2 separate regions of the Homo sapiens genome follow, and region 2 is linked to region 1. Evidence: fine-mapped expression QTL. Tissue or cell type: whole blood. Region 1 holds a variant in brackets; the other region holds the start of a gene. All regions are shown on one strand. Distances are from middle to middle.

The links. PIP is the estimated chance that this variant, and not a neighbour inherited with it, causes the effect.
Region 2: TMPRSS13 starts here. The variant in region 1 is fine-mapped to the expression of TMPRSS13 in whole blood (TOPMed, PIP above 0.99).

What each region holds. Positions count from the first base shown.
Region 1 is chr11:117,976,786-117,985,165 of GRCh38, forward strand. No RefSeq gene overlaps it. Among named protein-coding and RNA genes, the nearest start is that of IL10RA, 5.4 kb to the right of the region's middle. RefSeq lists an enhancer at 544-713. The variant C/A (reference allele first, on the strand shown) is at 4,540.
Region 2 is chr11:117,926,038-117,933,541 of GRCh38, forward strand. TMPRSS13 (transmembrane serine protease 13) reads right to left here and starts at 3,365. Exons shown (of 13, transcript NM_001077263.3): 1 at 3,250-3,365. The coding sequence starts at 3,270. RefSeq lists enhancers at 6,048-6,587, 6,226-6,355, 6,588-7,126.

The sequences.
Region 1 (8,380 bases):
TGTTCTTGCTGTGAATCATCTTGAGGCAAAAAGTTAAAAACAAAACAAAACAAGGTGGTCTTTGGGCAGGAAGAGGAAGGCCTCTGCTCTCTTTATGGGCAAGGAGGGTGTTCAGAGAGGCCTAGAGACTTCCAAAGGCAAGAAGTTCACTGGCCTCTCCCTGCCACCAACATTGCCAGAAGCTTAAGGAGGGTTTGCAAAATGCAGCTGAACTGGTGGGTGCTCTGAAACTACTGCTTTGAGCAGTTGTAACAGACTATCTCTTTGGTACTTTTGTTATTTGAGAGCTTCCAATAGCATTTTTTCAAAGATGCTGGGCCTGTGTCCGTACTTCAAACAAACAGCTGCAGCTCAGAGGCCACCACCGTGAGACGCTCAGAGGTGAGGTGCAAGCCCTCTAGGATGGCTCTGGGATTGGAAACCCAAGAGCAGATGGACTTCCTGCATTTGTGGGATGGGAGTTCAAACTGTTGTTATTTTAGAATTAAGGGGAAATGACACCCTTAAAAACTGGAGAAGTCAAGGCCATCTGGGCTGCAGAAGGAAGACACGACTGTGTCTTGAAATGACACGAGATATTTCTGTCAATGTTCTGTTCTTCACTTCTTGCATCCCAAGTTCACAAAGCAATGACAATGGACTAAGTTCATGGACCAGGTCCACAGCCTTCCTGACGAGGTGATTTTCTTAAAATAATTCTGGGGGAGGGAGGTGTCCCAAGTACAACCAAAGGCCCAGTTGTCCCAAGATGGTGTGGTGGGCCTCAGCACAACATACAACCCAGAGTGAGGCCAAACACATCCAGGCCATGAAAGAAAGGGGCTAGATCCCTCTAGTCAGCGTGCTTTTTGCTGAATGTTTCTACAGACCTCACTCCCTCTTGTGTCCGGAATTGGTGGGTTCTTGGTCTCACTGACTTCAAGAATGAAGCTGCGGACCCTCGCGGTGAGTGTTACAGCTTTTAAGGTGGCGCGTCTGGAGTCTGTCCCTTTTGATGCTCAGATGTGTTCGGAGTTTCTTCCTTCTGATGGGTTCGTGGTCTCGCTGGCTCAGGAGTGAAGCTGCAGAGCTTTGCGGAGAGTGTTACAGCTCTTAAGGCAGCGCATCTGGAGTTGTTCGTTCCTCCTGGTGGGCTTGTGGTCTCACTGGGCTCAGGAGTGAAGCTGCAGATCTTCGCGGTGTTACAGCTCATAAAAGCAGCGCGGACCCAAAGAGTCAGCAGTAGCAAGACTTATTGCAAAGAGCGAAAGAACAAAGCTTCCACAGGGTGGAAGGGGACCCGAGCGGGTTGCCAACGCTGGCTCGGGCAGCCTGCTTTTATTCTCTTATCTGGCCCCACCCACATCCTGCTGATGGGTAGAGCCAAGTGGCCTGTTTTGACAGGGTGCTGATTGGTAAATTTACAATCCCTGAGCTAGATACAAATGTTCTTCACGTCCCCATCAGATTAGTTAGATACAGAGTATGGACACAAAGGTTCTCCAAGGCCCCACCAGAGCAGCTAGATACAGAGTGTCGATTGGTGCACTCACAAACCTTGAGCTAAACACAGGGGTGCTGATTGGTGTGTTTACAAACCTTGAGCTAAACATAAAGACTCTCCGCGTCCCCACCAGACTCAGGAGCCCAGCTGGCTTCACCTAATGGATCCCGCACCGGGGCTTCAGGTGGAGCTGCCTGCCAGTCCTGCGCCGTGCGCTCGCATTCCTCAGCCCTTGGGTGGTCGATGGGACTGGGCGCCTTGGAGCAGGGGGTGGTGCTCCACGGGGAGGCTCGGGCCTCAGAGGAGCCCATGGAGTGGGTGGGTGGCTCAGGCATGGCGGGCTGCAGGTCCCGAGCCCTGCCCCGCGGGAAGGCAGCTAAGGCCCGGCAAGAAATCGAGCACAGCGCCGGTGGGCCGGCACTGCTGGGGGACCCAGTACACCCTCCGCAGCCACTGGCCCGGGTGCTAAGTCCCTCATTGCCCGGGGCCAGCAGGGCTGGCTGGCTGTTCCGAGTGCGGGGCCCGCCAAGCCCACGCCCACCCGGAACTCCAGCTGGCCCGCAAGCGCCGCACGCAGCCCCGGTTGCCGCTGGAGCCTCTCCCTCCACACCTCCCTGCAAGCTGAGGGAGTGGGCTCCAGCCTTGGCCAACCCAGAAAGGGGCTCCCACAGTGCAGTGGGGGGGCTGAAGGGCTCCTCAAATGCCGCCAAAGTGGGAGCCCAGGCAGGGGAGGTGCCGAGAGCAAGCGAGGGCTCTGAGGACTGCCAGCAGGCTGTCACCTCTCACTCTCACTTGAGAAGCCATTATCAGTTACCAGAACACTTTGTGTCTGGCTTTACAACAGCCCAGATTCCAATCTTGCCAACAGCTAATAGAGCCAAAGGGACCGGTTCCAGGGTGCACGACTGGTAGTGACCAAGCTGGGGCTAGAAGTAGGTCTGTTGGTTTTGAGGTAACCAGGCTCCTCCCACCTAAGGCAATGACCAAGAACAGTGTCCCAGGCAGATTATAGGAATGAGAAGGCTCTTAGCCCCAGCTCTGCTGATTTAAAGTAATTAGCATGGGCATTCCTTCACCTGGGAGATCAGTACTTCTTCCCCTTCCCCCTAAACTGATGGGCATGACAACCTCACGCAGTCTTCACAGTTCCACAAACTTAGCTGCTATGGTTTGAGAGCCAGAGAGTTGAGCTTCGATCTGGAGACCAAAGTTTTAATTCTGTCACTAACTAGTGAGTTACCCTGGCTACTCACCTTCATGCTCTAGATTTCCTCTTCTATTTAAAATGCAAATCTGCCATATCCCTCTCCTGCCTAAAACCCTTCACTGATGCCTTTCACCCACCCAGCTAAAGTTCTAGGAACTCCCCATTCAAGCCTGAGCCACCACACAGAGTCGAGAGGAATGTTGAGAATGGGGTTTTGTCCCTTCTGAGCTCTTTGGTGCTCCTCCAGGGGGGAGCCAGGGAGAAGGTGAAGGGATGTGGACACTCATTAGGTTTGGCAACTGGAGACTTCTCCCAGGGCCGTTGCTGGGGCTGGGCGAGCCCCTCACTGTGCATCTGCAATTCTCCTGGACCCAACAACTACCAAGTTTCCTACCCACACAGTTTCCTTCTCTGTGTCTCCTTCTTACGGTCAGTTCCCTCTGTGTCTCTCTCCTTGTTATGTGCAGCTCTGACACAGTGATCACAAGTCCTGGAACTTCCCTACTCACCAGTTGAGGGACAGAAACTGCAAGTTACGCTTGTTAGCACACTCAAGCACAGACTTCCTGCCAACTCAGATGCCCATCCGACTCCCCAGGCATGCCCATTTAACAGCATCATCCTGAGCACCAAGATAAAGTCAAATGAAAATGAGACAATGGAACCACCCAGAGCCCAAAATCTGCCCTCAAAATTTCCCAGGGTAACCCTAGGGGCCAGATGTTCACGCAGCAGGTTCCCTGGTTCCCTGGGCTAGCCACGTCCCTCTACCATCTACAAGACTCTCAGCCCTCAGCTGTTCCTCCTCTCTTGCCCTCCCCCTTGTCTTTTTCTCCAACCCCGTTCTCTCTTTCTCTCAATCACTTGACATTTGTCTCTTGCAAGAATTCTTCCAAGATTCAGAAGGGCACTGTTCACATGGTAGTAAAAGCATGAGCTCTGGAGTCAAACAGACCAGTTGAACAGGCTTCTAGCTCTGCTACGTACTGAGTGAATGACATGGGCAAGTGACTCAGTCTCTCACCTCATTTTCCCATCTGTAAAACACTGATAATGATGCTTATCTCACTGAGTGTTTATAAGGATTAAATGAAATAAGGTTTGCAGATTATTCAGGGTAGTTAACACTAGCTGCTATGAAAAAAACTTCACAAAATCTCAGTGGCTTGAGAGGGTTTACTCCTCACCCAATCAATAGGCTGATGCAAACTGGGTGTCTTTTCTGCACAGCTGCCCTCCAAGAGGTGATTCAGGGGCCCAAGCTCCCTCTATTCCCTTGGAGTCCTCCACTGGACACCTCCAGATGGCTGGCAGAATAGCAAAGACAGAGTTAGCAGCCAGGCCTGGAAGTGGCACCCATCAACTCAACTTTACAGTGCTTAAAAGCCAGCCACATATTCTACTTAACTGCAAGGGGGACTGGGAAATATAGTTGCCCCATGTGCCCAGGAAGAGGAACTGGTATTACTAAGCATCTGGCCATTCTCTGCCACAACATGTGAAGTATTTCACATAGTGCCCGATAGGTCATAAAAACTCAATAAATATTAATAGAAGATATGGCCAGGTGTGGTGGCTCACGCCTGTAATCCTAGCACTTTGGGAGGCTAAGGCAGGAGGATCGTTTGAGCCTAGGAGTTCCAAACCAGCCTGGGCAACATGGTGAAATGTCATCTCTACCAAAAAAAATAAAATAAAATAAATTACCTGGGCATGGTGGCCTGCACCTGTAGTCCCAGCTACTCAGGAGGCTGAGGTGGGAGGATCACTTGAGCCTGGGAAGTAGAGGCTGCAGTGAGCCAAGATCAAGCCACTGCACTCCAGCCTGGGTGACAGAGTGAAACCTTGT[C/A]TCAATAAATAAATAAATAAATAAAAATTAAGAAAAAATTTAAAAAGAGAAGATCCTTTAATGATTGCCTCCTATCATATGTCTCTCTACTGGTGTGAATACCAGAATACACAGAACTTTAGGGTGGACTTTTCAGAACACTGAAAACAAAACAAAATAAACATGTGGATTCCGTGTTTCTTTTTCTTCCTTTTCAAGTATAGTAATCACATGCCTGACGTAACTCCTATTCTGGGTGCTCTCCATGAGGCAGCAGGATACATTGGAATAGCCTGCATTCAAATCCTGGCTCTGCCCTGAGCTAGGTATTAACCTATGTTAGCCACTGTGGTTTTCTCATCTTAAAACAAGAGTGCCAGTTTACCCACTTTCCAGGGTTCTTAAAAAATGCCATATTCCCTAATCTCCAAGTAAACACTTCCTTCTGTCTGGAATACCCTCCCTATCCACTCTTCATTAGCTACCTCCTATTCCTCCCTCAAGTCTCAACTTAGATGTCACCTCCTTCAGGAAGTTTTCCTTATCTTCTATCCCAAGTGTGGTTTAGTGCCTCTGTCTTTTGTCCAGTCAGCCTGTACTTGCCTTCCCAGAGCACTTACCACTGTGTATTAAAATCTCTGTTCACTTTCTGCCTCTGCCCAGATTGCTTCTTGGGGAAAGGGACTTAGTTTTGATCACCATTTTATTCCTAGCATCATTATAGCATCTGGCCCACAACGAGTGTGCAGTAAATATTGTCATATGAACGAATTAAAAATTTTGATCCTCCTTCAAAATGGTAACGCGTAAGACTCTTATACGTCAACAAAAAATAAAAGTAAAGACAAGGTCAGGAACTGGCCAGGTGCGTTGGCTCACGCCTGTAATCCCAGCACTTTGGGAGGCTGAGGCAGATGGATCACTTGAAGTCAGGAGTTTGAGACCAGCCTGGCCAACATGGTGAAACCCCGTATCTACCTAAAAATACAAAAATTTCGCCAGGCGTGGTGGTGGGTGCCTGTAATCCCAGCTACTTGGAAGGCTAAGACATGAGAATCACTTGAACCTGAGAGATGGAGGTTGCAGTGAGCCGAGATTGTGCCGCTGCACTCCAGCCTGGGCAACAGAGAGAGACGCTGTCTTAAAAAAAAAAAAAAAAAAAAAAAATTGCCGGGCGCGGTGGCTCACCCCTGTAATCCCAGCACTTTGGGAGGCCGATGCGGCCATATCACGAGGTCAGGAGATTGAGACCATCCTGGCTAACACGGTAAAACCCCGTCTCTACTAAAAAAATACAAAAAATTAGCCGGGCGTGGTGGCGGATGCCTGTAGTCCCAGCTACTCGGGAGGTGAGGCAGCAGAATGGCATGAACCCGGAAGGCAGAGCTTGCAGTGAGCCAAGATCGGGCCACTGCACTCCAGCCTGGGTGACAGAGCAAGACTCTGTCTCAAAAAAAAAAAAAAAAAGTTCTGGAAGAAACATCACAGTGTCTTTCTCTTTTAAAAGGTCGGGGTAACTAAGTAGTTGTTTCAGAAGGCAGCTACACCCCTTGGGTCATGACAGGGTACTCCTGAGCAATTTACCATCTTAATTCCTCACTTGAGCAACAGAGAGTATAAAAAAAATCTTCACACATTAAAAAAGCCTGGGGCTTGCCCTCTCCACTCATCTGGGGGTGTGGCAACAAGAGCTGTCTCCTGAGGGTGGCCCAGGCTGATGATGTGTCCTGGTAGGCCTGCAGATATCACTCTCCCCCATCCATGTAGCTGAGGCACCCCTGCCTTCGCTGACTATCGTCAAGAGTGAGGTCTTTCTAGTCCCAATGTAGACTCTTAGATACAGGATGGGATCTCCCAACTCCCACCCCCAGCCAACCTGGCACACTTTCAGTCCAGGCCACTGGGCAGAGAGATTTCCGCTCTGAAAATATTGAAATAGGGTTTATATCTCCACAAACCATGGGGATAATGCCTCACTAACTCCTAGACCACGCACAGTGCTGGTGTCACACACCTAAGTTAGGGGCCCTTTCTCAAAAGCTGCAGTAAATAAGGCCCTCCATGTGGGCATTGGGCACTGCCAGGGAAACCTCCCAGGAGCAGGTGATAGTTACAGGAGGCAGTCAAATGCCTAGGCAGATAGGGCGGGTCCCTGGTGAAACCCCACCTCCAAGTTGAAGACAACTTAAAACCTGAAAGCCAAGCTGCAAGTTAAATCTTCAGACCAGATTGAGAACCTGTCTTCCCATTTGGCACGCTTTCCTCTGATTGATCCCCACCCTTCACCTACTTTACATACACCTACCCTTTCCTAATTGGTTTTCTACACTGTCGTACCCACCTTTGAGTGGTATTTTCACTTTAACCTTTTTTGCATACTCACAAACCAATCGGCATGCACTCCCTATTCTGAGTCCAGAAAAAGCCCTGGATCCAGCCACACTGAGAAAAAAAAACACCCAACTGTGGGAGCGGGGAACCACCCCCCTCCCCATCCCCTCTCTGCTGAGAGCTGGTCCATCACTCAATAAAATTATTCTCTGCCCATCCTCACCCTTCAACTGTCAGCGAATTCTCATTCTTCTTGAACACAGGACAAGAGCTCAGGAACAAATGAAGGTACAAACTACAATACAGGCAGGGCGGGGTATGGCCGGGTGGGTGGGGCAGCAGGCCTGGAGTGGGGCCTTGCTGGCCAGAAATGTCCTGAGCCCCTCTTCTTTGGTTTGTCTGAGAACAAGGGCAGGGCTTGAGGGATGCACACACAGTCCCAAACACACATATGCACTTGGCAAACAGACAACGTTCTCCACACCACAATGAAATCCAAATCCACAGACTGGCCACTGCAAATCATATATGACTGCAAGTGCACACACACACACACACACACACACACACACACACACACACTTTGAAGCAGGTGTCAGCCTCCAAGAAAAAGTGATGGACAGTCTGTCTCTCATATCCTCACATATTTGGTTCACCTGGAGATGGCCTCAGATGAGCCAAGTGACACAGAGGTGCGAGAGACTGAGGATGTGCTGAGGTGTTACCCAGCACTCCAGTAGTGCTATTACCCAACACAAAAATTGGTCTGAATATCAGATTTCAAGCAAGCAAGGGAAACCCAGAAGAGACTGGGAGAAGTCCTTATGGAGGCTAAAGCAACTCCATGTTGGATGCTAATCCACAGTTTTGGCCGTGTTGGCTTTGGAGCCTCCCAGAAGACCTCTGAGATTCCCAATTTATCAATTGCTCCTTGTGTAAGTGCAAACACTTACTGTAAATCCGGCCCTTAGGTCAAACAACCTTGATGTTATCATACTTCAACTGTCCTACACATCTTTTCTGAATCACCCTTCCCCTGTGGTCTATAAGCCCTGGTCCTGGGGGTGAATCATGGAGACACAAACGTAGCTTCTGTTTATAAGTCCTTATTAAATGTTTTTTTCGAAGAAACTGGATGTGTCAGCCTGTAACCTGCAAAAGGATCTGGCTGCTCTCTGCTTGTAGAAAGAATGGATAATAAAGGAAAATCTGCTAGCTGCCATGCTAGCAGGGGAAGAGCAGCAAACAATTCCACTCTTCAATTCATGGGGGGAACGCAGGGGTTTTTTAAGAAAGGATCTGAAATGCAGAAAAGGCAAGGGGGAGGTTAGGAGGTACCAGGTGGTGTGACTTGCTCCAGTGGTCCTCTTTAATTATCGTCTTATTTGGTGGAGGGGCTGGTGCAATCGTGGATCCTGCCAGGTTATAAATTAGTTACTCTTCAGCAGGGTATATGTTCAACTCCTGAAGTAAGCTTTTGTTGGAGAGAGAATTCCGGAGGTGCCTGGTCCCTATCAGGACGCAGCTCCTG
Region 2 (7,504 bases), 51 kb before region 1:
GGTGAAGGCTGCACACCTGCAGGGGCATAGGGCAGGTGCCAGGGTCCTTGGAGGACGAGGTGAGGGATGCACACCTGCAGAGGCATAGGGCAGGTGCCAGGGTCCTTGGAGGACGAGGTGAGGGCTACACACCTGCAGGGGCATAGGGCAGGTGCCAGGGTCCTTGGAGGACGAGGTGAGGGATGCACACCTGCAGAGGCATAGGGCAGGTGCCAGGGTCCTTGGAGGACGAGGTGAGGGCTACACACCTGCAGGGGCATAGGGCAGGTGCCAGGGTCCTTGGGGTGCCTGGGGCTGGGATGGGGCTGGGACACGGCATGGCAGAGTGACTTGACCCGCGGGTGAGCCATCTCAGGAACTGCCCAGCTCCTCTGGAAAGGGTGCCTTATCCTGGACCAGCGGTGGGCCCCCAGACGGTTCTCACCAATCCCTAGCACCTGTGGCCTTGGGCTAATTTGGAACCTGTTCCACTTGAAGAAGGCCCAGTATAAGAAAATCCACTCCACAAAGGAATGTTGCTTCATCAATGGGTCTAATTCAGTCTTTCTTTAATAAGCATTGCACTGCTCTGAGAATTAAAAATGAGAATTGAAAAAGCACAAAATACGCATTGTCAAGAACAAATCTGGTGTGGCGCACCTGTCATCCCCGTTCTATGTAATTCCAGACTGTCAGGGAGCCAGAAAGGAGCCTCAGGGGGGAATGTGTCCAACCCTCTTCTTTGGTGGGGAAGCTGAGGCACAGGTAGAAGAAGATGTTTGTCCAAATTTATAGGAGCCCACCCCAAATTCTAGGCAGTGATGATAAATTTCAACATTCTCTGACTCCATCTCTATCTATCTATCTCTATCTCTCTATGCCAGATGCTATTCTAAATGAGCCTTACTATGGGAAGGACACTATTTTGAGACTCCTTGAGGTAGGTATTATTAAATTAAGCTTAGCCTAAAGCTGCCTCCTTACATATTTTAAGTTCGGATCAAAAGGTTTCTCTGTACATAATGAACTATAACTCAACTGGACGTGTAAACAGACTGTAAACTACTCTTGTTAACAATCACCAATTTTGCACAATCAAAGGCAGCCAACTGTTCAAACAGTGTTCAAATAAGGCTATTTCTGTACCTCACTTCCTTTTTCCATACACTGCTTGCCTTTTTCTGTCCATAAATCCTCTCCGACCACGCAGCTGTGTGGGAATCTCTCTGAATCTATTCTCCTTCGGGGGACTGCTCCATTTGAGAATTGTTCTTTGCTCAATTAAACTCTGTTAAATTTAGTTTGTCCAACATTCTTCTTTTGAGAGTAGTATTATTATTCCATTTTACAGATGAAGAAACTAAGGTACAGAAAGGTGAAGTGGCTTGCCCAAAGCTGACGGGGAACATGGTCAGTTCTCTGTCCACCACGACATGCAACTTTCTTTTGAATATGAGAAACTGAGACCCTTCTCCACCTCTTTTCCAAGATCCCTCTGAAGATCCAGCAGCTGACAGAGGAGTGCCATCAGGCTCAAGCCCACTGGCCACCATCTTCCTCACGACATTTTGGAGTTGAGGGACAGAAATCACAATGCATCTCTCTGCAATAAAGCCCTCAAGGAGAAGGCACAAGCTCAGGTGACCAGCTTCTCCCAGACCACTCCTATTTAATCAAGGTTAAGAAACCTGCTGCAGATGGGAATACGAGCCCCAACTATAGGCTCACTCTCTCAGAGTTCCATCTTAAATAGGGGAGTGAAGTTAAGAACCTTAAATAAGAATGTAATGATTCCATTCTTCCATTCCAAGGTAAGTTTGGACAATCTTTTTTTCAGAATGAATATGGCACCTATCATAATATTTGACACTTAATTCATAGATTAATTGGGAGTTCCTCAAAGAAGTCTGTTCTCTGTCCTGTATCCCTCCAGCAGCCTTCATGTTGATCCCTGACTCTGAAGAGATGAGCTTCCTGGGAAGATATCGCCCCATCACCCTGTCTCAGGGATGGACTATCCATCTCCAGTGGGAGCATGGCCACCCTCCGGATAGCTCAGCCCTTCTCACTCTTGGGTTTAGGGACCATCTAGTTTAGGCTCCCAGCATATTGCCAAGGAGGATGCCCCATGGCTGTGACTAAGGGTTCACCTTCTGCATGCCCTTGTGTACCCCCCTTACTGCTCAACAGTAAGAGGCTCTGATAACCCCCCAAGGCCTAGGGCCAAGTGACTTTGGTGAGGTAGAGACATGAACGAAGGAGCCCAGAGCAGAGGGCAAGGGAGGCAGCCTGGGAAAGAAAAGTCAAGAGGGGGCTGGAAGAATGGTGGGAAAAAAATGATGGTAAAGTTTGCAGAAACACATTGGGGGTGCAGAATGGACCACAAGCCAACTATAAGCCAAAACATAGGATGAGCTGATCTTTCCCAAACCCAGTGCTAGCCCATTCTTCCCAGAGTCCCAGGCTCTACCATGTCGGTAAGGTACAGAGAATTTGGAGGGGGCAGAAAACAAGACCTAAAGGAGAAATGAGAGCACAAAAGGGATTTCCTGGAGGAAAAGAAAGTGGAGGCACAGCAGAACAAGATCTTTGGAAGCCTTCATGTGTGTATGACTGGCTTTCCCACAGAGGACAGGCCAGCTGCTTTCTCCTACCCCAAGAGCAGCAGAAGAAAGGAAGTTGAGTGGTAGCAGGACTTGTGGTTAAACATCAAGAAGCACTTCCCAAGCATGAAAGTTATTAAGTCCAAAAAGAAGTGACCAACGGAGGTTGAAACATCCCCTTGAAAATCTTGAATGCACCCAGAAAGTCACAGTTTTCTGGGAAGGTTTAGGAGTGTAGTGAGGGGTTTAGACAAGATGCCCCTGAATTGCAGTTAGAATGCTTTTGATTTTCCAACCAGCAAAAATGAGATTAAAGTAGATTAGCCTGGATTCCCAATCGGCAAAGTTGGTGCTGTAACACTATGGATGCCCGGCAGGAGTGCTCACAGACCACAGAGCAGGAAACCCACGACTCAGCCACATAGCCCTGGGGTGCTCACCAGCCAGACCCCAAATCCCAGCAGCTTCTCCTCCCAGGGGCTTTTTCTAGAACCACGTTAAAAGGAGACCAAGAGATCTTGATCGTAAGTAGCTTCAAACTAGAAGAGGCACAGCCAGTTTCCCCCAAACCTGAAACACAGAGGTAGCTGTCCCACCTGTCTCCCAGCCTCAGCCCTGCTTCCTCAGCGCTGGGAGAATCTGGCCCGAGGCCTGAGGTCACACTCACCCCGTGGCTGTCCCTCTCCATGGTCTCTGAGGGGAAGAGTCCTCCAGGCTTAGCTGATGTCGAGGAGAAGATCCATCTTGGTCCCTGGCTTCTCAGGCATGTAGGGTAAAGGAGTTGGAGGGCCAAGGGCCAGCCCCCACCAAATGGGGCGGGGAAGCCGGTTGGGACGTGTGAAGTAATCCCCAGTATAAACAACACAGAACTAGCCAGACCTGTTCCTCTGCCCCTCATCGAGGCCATCCCAGTTACTCAGCGAATACCAAATTCCAAATACCGGGAACCTGAAGCTGCCTTTACTCATGAAACTGCCCCCACAGAAGCAGAGGAGTGTTCTGAGCTACTTCTTCAGAGGGGCCCTGAGAGAAAGGGCAGAGCCTTGAGAGGATGGTCTTGGTCCTGTTGACCTGAGCCCCTGAAACAGATGCTCCAGAGCCTTCTGAGGGATGACCCTATCCCCACAGGGGACGTTCCAGGCCAGGGGCAGAGCCCCACCTATGGCAGGACAGTGGGAACCTTCATCTCCAAGGACCAGGTGTCCAAATCCCAAATCAGGGCACATGGTCTCTGGGCGCATGGTCTGGCAATTGCTTTCTCCTGAACTCTGTTTGTTTTTATGAAACTCTTAACAAAGAAATGAAAATCAAATGACCTTTAATTATGCACATCATGAATTGCCCTCTATTGAAAACAATAAAGTGCCAGAAGCAACACATCAAAGTCAATGAAATAAAACATAACTATCTGAATGGAAACTGTTCCAAGAAACATTGGGCTGACTCGTGATCCCAAACCTATACCCTATTCTGATCCTCAGAGTCAAAAGAAGTAAAGGAAGGGCTATTGCAAAAGGAGTCCTTAGCACCTCCGGCTAAGTTCCAGCTGAGCTGCTGCTGAGAACTGCAAAAAAAAAAAAAAGAAAAAGGAGTTCCTGTTGAGGTTTGGGAAGAACTTTCTTGAGCATTCAGAGGCACCAAGATTTTTAGAGTTTGAAAGAAGCTCATGGATCTTTAGTGGTTCACTCTTTTCATTTTACAGACTGCGAGACAGAGGGCCAGAGAGGCTAAGGAATGTGCTCAAGTCACACAGCAAACAACAGCAGCAGCAATAATCTTAAGATGCCAAGAATCCTGCGAAACACTTCACACGCATCCTTCACGTGTTCATTCAACAAATATGTATTGAGTGCCTGGCATTGCTTTAGGTGCTGGGGACACAGGAACAAAATAGGCAAAGCCTCCTGCCCTGTGGCTCTAGTATTTGCGGGTTGGGGGGAAAAAGCAGACAAAAATCAATAAATCAGTTACACAGCCTCCTAGAAAGTGAAAAGTGCCGTTCACAAAAACAAAGCAGCGAAAGGATCCAGAAGGTAGGGGAGGCAGAGTCCTGGCAGTTGGGAACAGGATGGTCAGAGAGGGCTCTCTGTGGTGACATATTTGAGCAAAAACTGAAAGGAAGTGACTACTATCGCCCCCCATTTACATTCAAGAAAACGGAAACTTCTAGCTCACAGTGGAAACTGTGCCCCAGCTTAGGGTGTCTTGAGGGAAATCTAACCCAGAGGCAAGAGGCTGGAGGAGAGAACTCTGGAGGGCCCAGGCAGGGACCCTAGAGTTCTCTCATCTTGGCTTATTGTGGGAGCCACTTCCCTGGCTTTCAAAGAGAGCAGAATTCAGCCACAGGCCACATCCCCTTCCTGCCCCATCCACCAGCCCACCATGACAAAGGGGCCCCTCCCATCCATCCTCCTGAGAAGATACCCACCTCCTGTCCTCAGCTGCTCCTCTTCCCTCTCTCCCAGGGAGGAGCCCAGCCCCTCTCTGGCTGCCACTGAGCCCTGGCACGCCCAGGCCAGATCCGAGGGCCTCCACTTCATCCCCCAGGCAGGCCACTGGTCTCCGAAGGGCACCCTCAGCCTCCTTCCCTGAAGGTCCCACCAACCTAGGGAAAGAGCTCAGGCTTGGGGGTCTGGGCGAGTTCGGGGGAATGAGAACCCTAACTCTGAGGGGAACTCGCAAGGCCTGACAGGTTCACCATCGGGAAAATGAGAACACATAGAACCAGAGGAAGTGCCTGGCACGGGGCACAGGGCACTGGGAAGGCTGGGAAGGAACATCAGTTTCACCTCTTGCTCTTTTCCTTGGTTTGCATCAGAGACACAAGTTGGCCTGTCCCAGAGTCCTCGCTGACAAAGCAGTCTGACCCGTGTGACATCCCCACCAAGGGCAGTTCAGTTCAGCAAGGATTGACTGCTCAGCACCAGGCCCACGGTGGCTGCTGGGGAGTGAGAGTGGTGGGCAAAGAACAGAAAGGCAGGGGCCCTGCCCTGGGAGAACACACAGTTGATGTGTTGGGGCGGGTGGCGGGGGGACACTGAGGAATGAAATTCCTAGCTGGTGGTTTTCCTATTTTCAGAGTGAAGGCGCTGCGGCAGCACAAGACCTGGATGCTTCCCCCACAGAGCTGGACTTAGAGGCCTGCACCGCTTTTGACTTCCCCACTGACCCTGGCCTGGCCCTTTCCTTCCCCCTCCTCCCGGCCTCCTTTGCTGTCCTCCTGACTGTACAATCCCAGGCTCTCTCTGACTCCCACCCTTTCCTTTGCCTCCTTCTCTCTGGCCTTGGTCCCTGGCTTTCTCCCTTCAGCTCCCTGGTTGCCTTCTGGAAAGACACCTGCCCACCTCTGGCTACTCCACACCCAGAGGCTATTGGCAGCACCTGGGACCCACCTTCTGCTCCCTCAACGCCCCAGGGAGAGTGTAGGCCAGCCATCAGGCCCATTTGTACCCTGGTCATTTCCTACCTGGGTCATTTCCATGTGGAGTGAAGGGAGTTTTACAGAAAAATGTCAGCCATGCAAACAAGCACACATCTCCTGGCAGCTGTCCAGGAGAGTGAGGTGTGAGAAAATCTCACTACTGTTTTGAGACTAAACTCCTAGCTCTCTGCTTCCATGGCTGTTCTAGCTACCACTACCCCAGTGCCTTGGGAACTCCTTCCTGAGGCTCCAGCCTGGGAAACAGAGCTCTGGGCCTTCTATTCCCAGCCTTGTTATCTTCCTTGGAGTTCCCACCTCGGGCCCATGTTCCTCCCTCCTGAGCCTATCAGCAGCTTCACCCCTGAATCACCTCCCAACTCCCTGCTTGGAGCCCTTGCCTACCCTTCCCCACTTTGCACCCCGCTTCTGAGCTTCTCCACCACTCTTGGCACAATAGGTGGGTTTCCCTCCAGGCCTGAGGGCAGCCAGGAAACCAACTACATACTTAAAGACTCAGTGTGGCAGAGGGGAGACACTGGGTCCACCCTCAAGGGGGTGAGTCACCAGGAGCCACCCCTGGGCCCAGCACACCTAACGCTCCTATGGTCTGTACTGCCCCACCCCCCAAGCCCAGCAGTCTTCCCAGCTGCAGCCCCAGGCAGGTCTCTTCCGCCCCCACTTAGCCTTCCAGGGCCGTCCTGGGTCCCTCCAGGCTGTGGTCCTAGCCGTGCCTCTCCCCACTCCAGGCCTGCAGAGGTTGATCGCCATTGAGTTCTGTGGACTAGAGGCTGGTTCTCTCTTCCTGCTTTTCCCTTGGGGCTGGACATCAGTGATCAAGTGAGGCACTTGCCCAGGCTGCACAATTTAAGAGCGTGCCCAAATAATCAAGATAAATCATGTTTTAATGAAATATTTTTAAAATCTGCATTAACGGGAAAAGTCCAAGGTGAATAAAATATCAGAATTTTAAGTAAAGACAGGATCAGCTTTCCATCTGGATTTTGTCTCCCCCTTTTATTACTCACATGTTAGCAGGGCCCCATTTCCCCTCGTGATTATTCCTTCTACTTTCTGCAGGATATTGTCCCAGCTGCTCAAAACATCCAGGCCAACCAAGAGCAAGGAAGGCCTCTTCCCAGGGGGTGAGCTCCCTCTCTGCACAGAGCAGACCTGAGCCCTAGAGAGCTGTTGTCTTCACTGTGAATTTCCACCCTGAGTTCCTTCTTTTTTGTGCCGTATTACTTCATTTTTGGTCTTCCATGAATCTGCATGGCTTACATGTTCTTTGTTGTGGCTGAACAGGAGTCCTCAGAATTAAGCAAACTGGTGCCTGCCTGACCATTTGTTGAACATGGCACTTGCTACCAATCTGTTCTAAGATTTGTTTTTTTAAATTAACAATGCATCAATAATAAGTTAACAATTAAATGAAGGCTGACAAATGTGCACACCTGTGTAACCATTATGACAATCAAAATCTAGAACATCCCCATCACCCCAA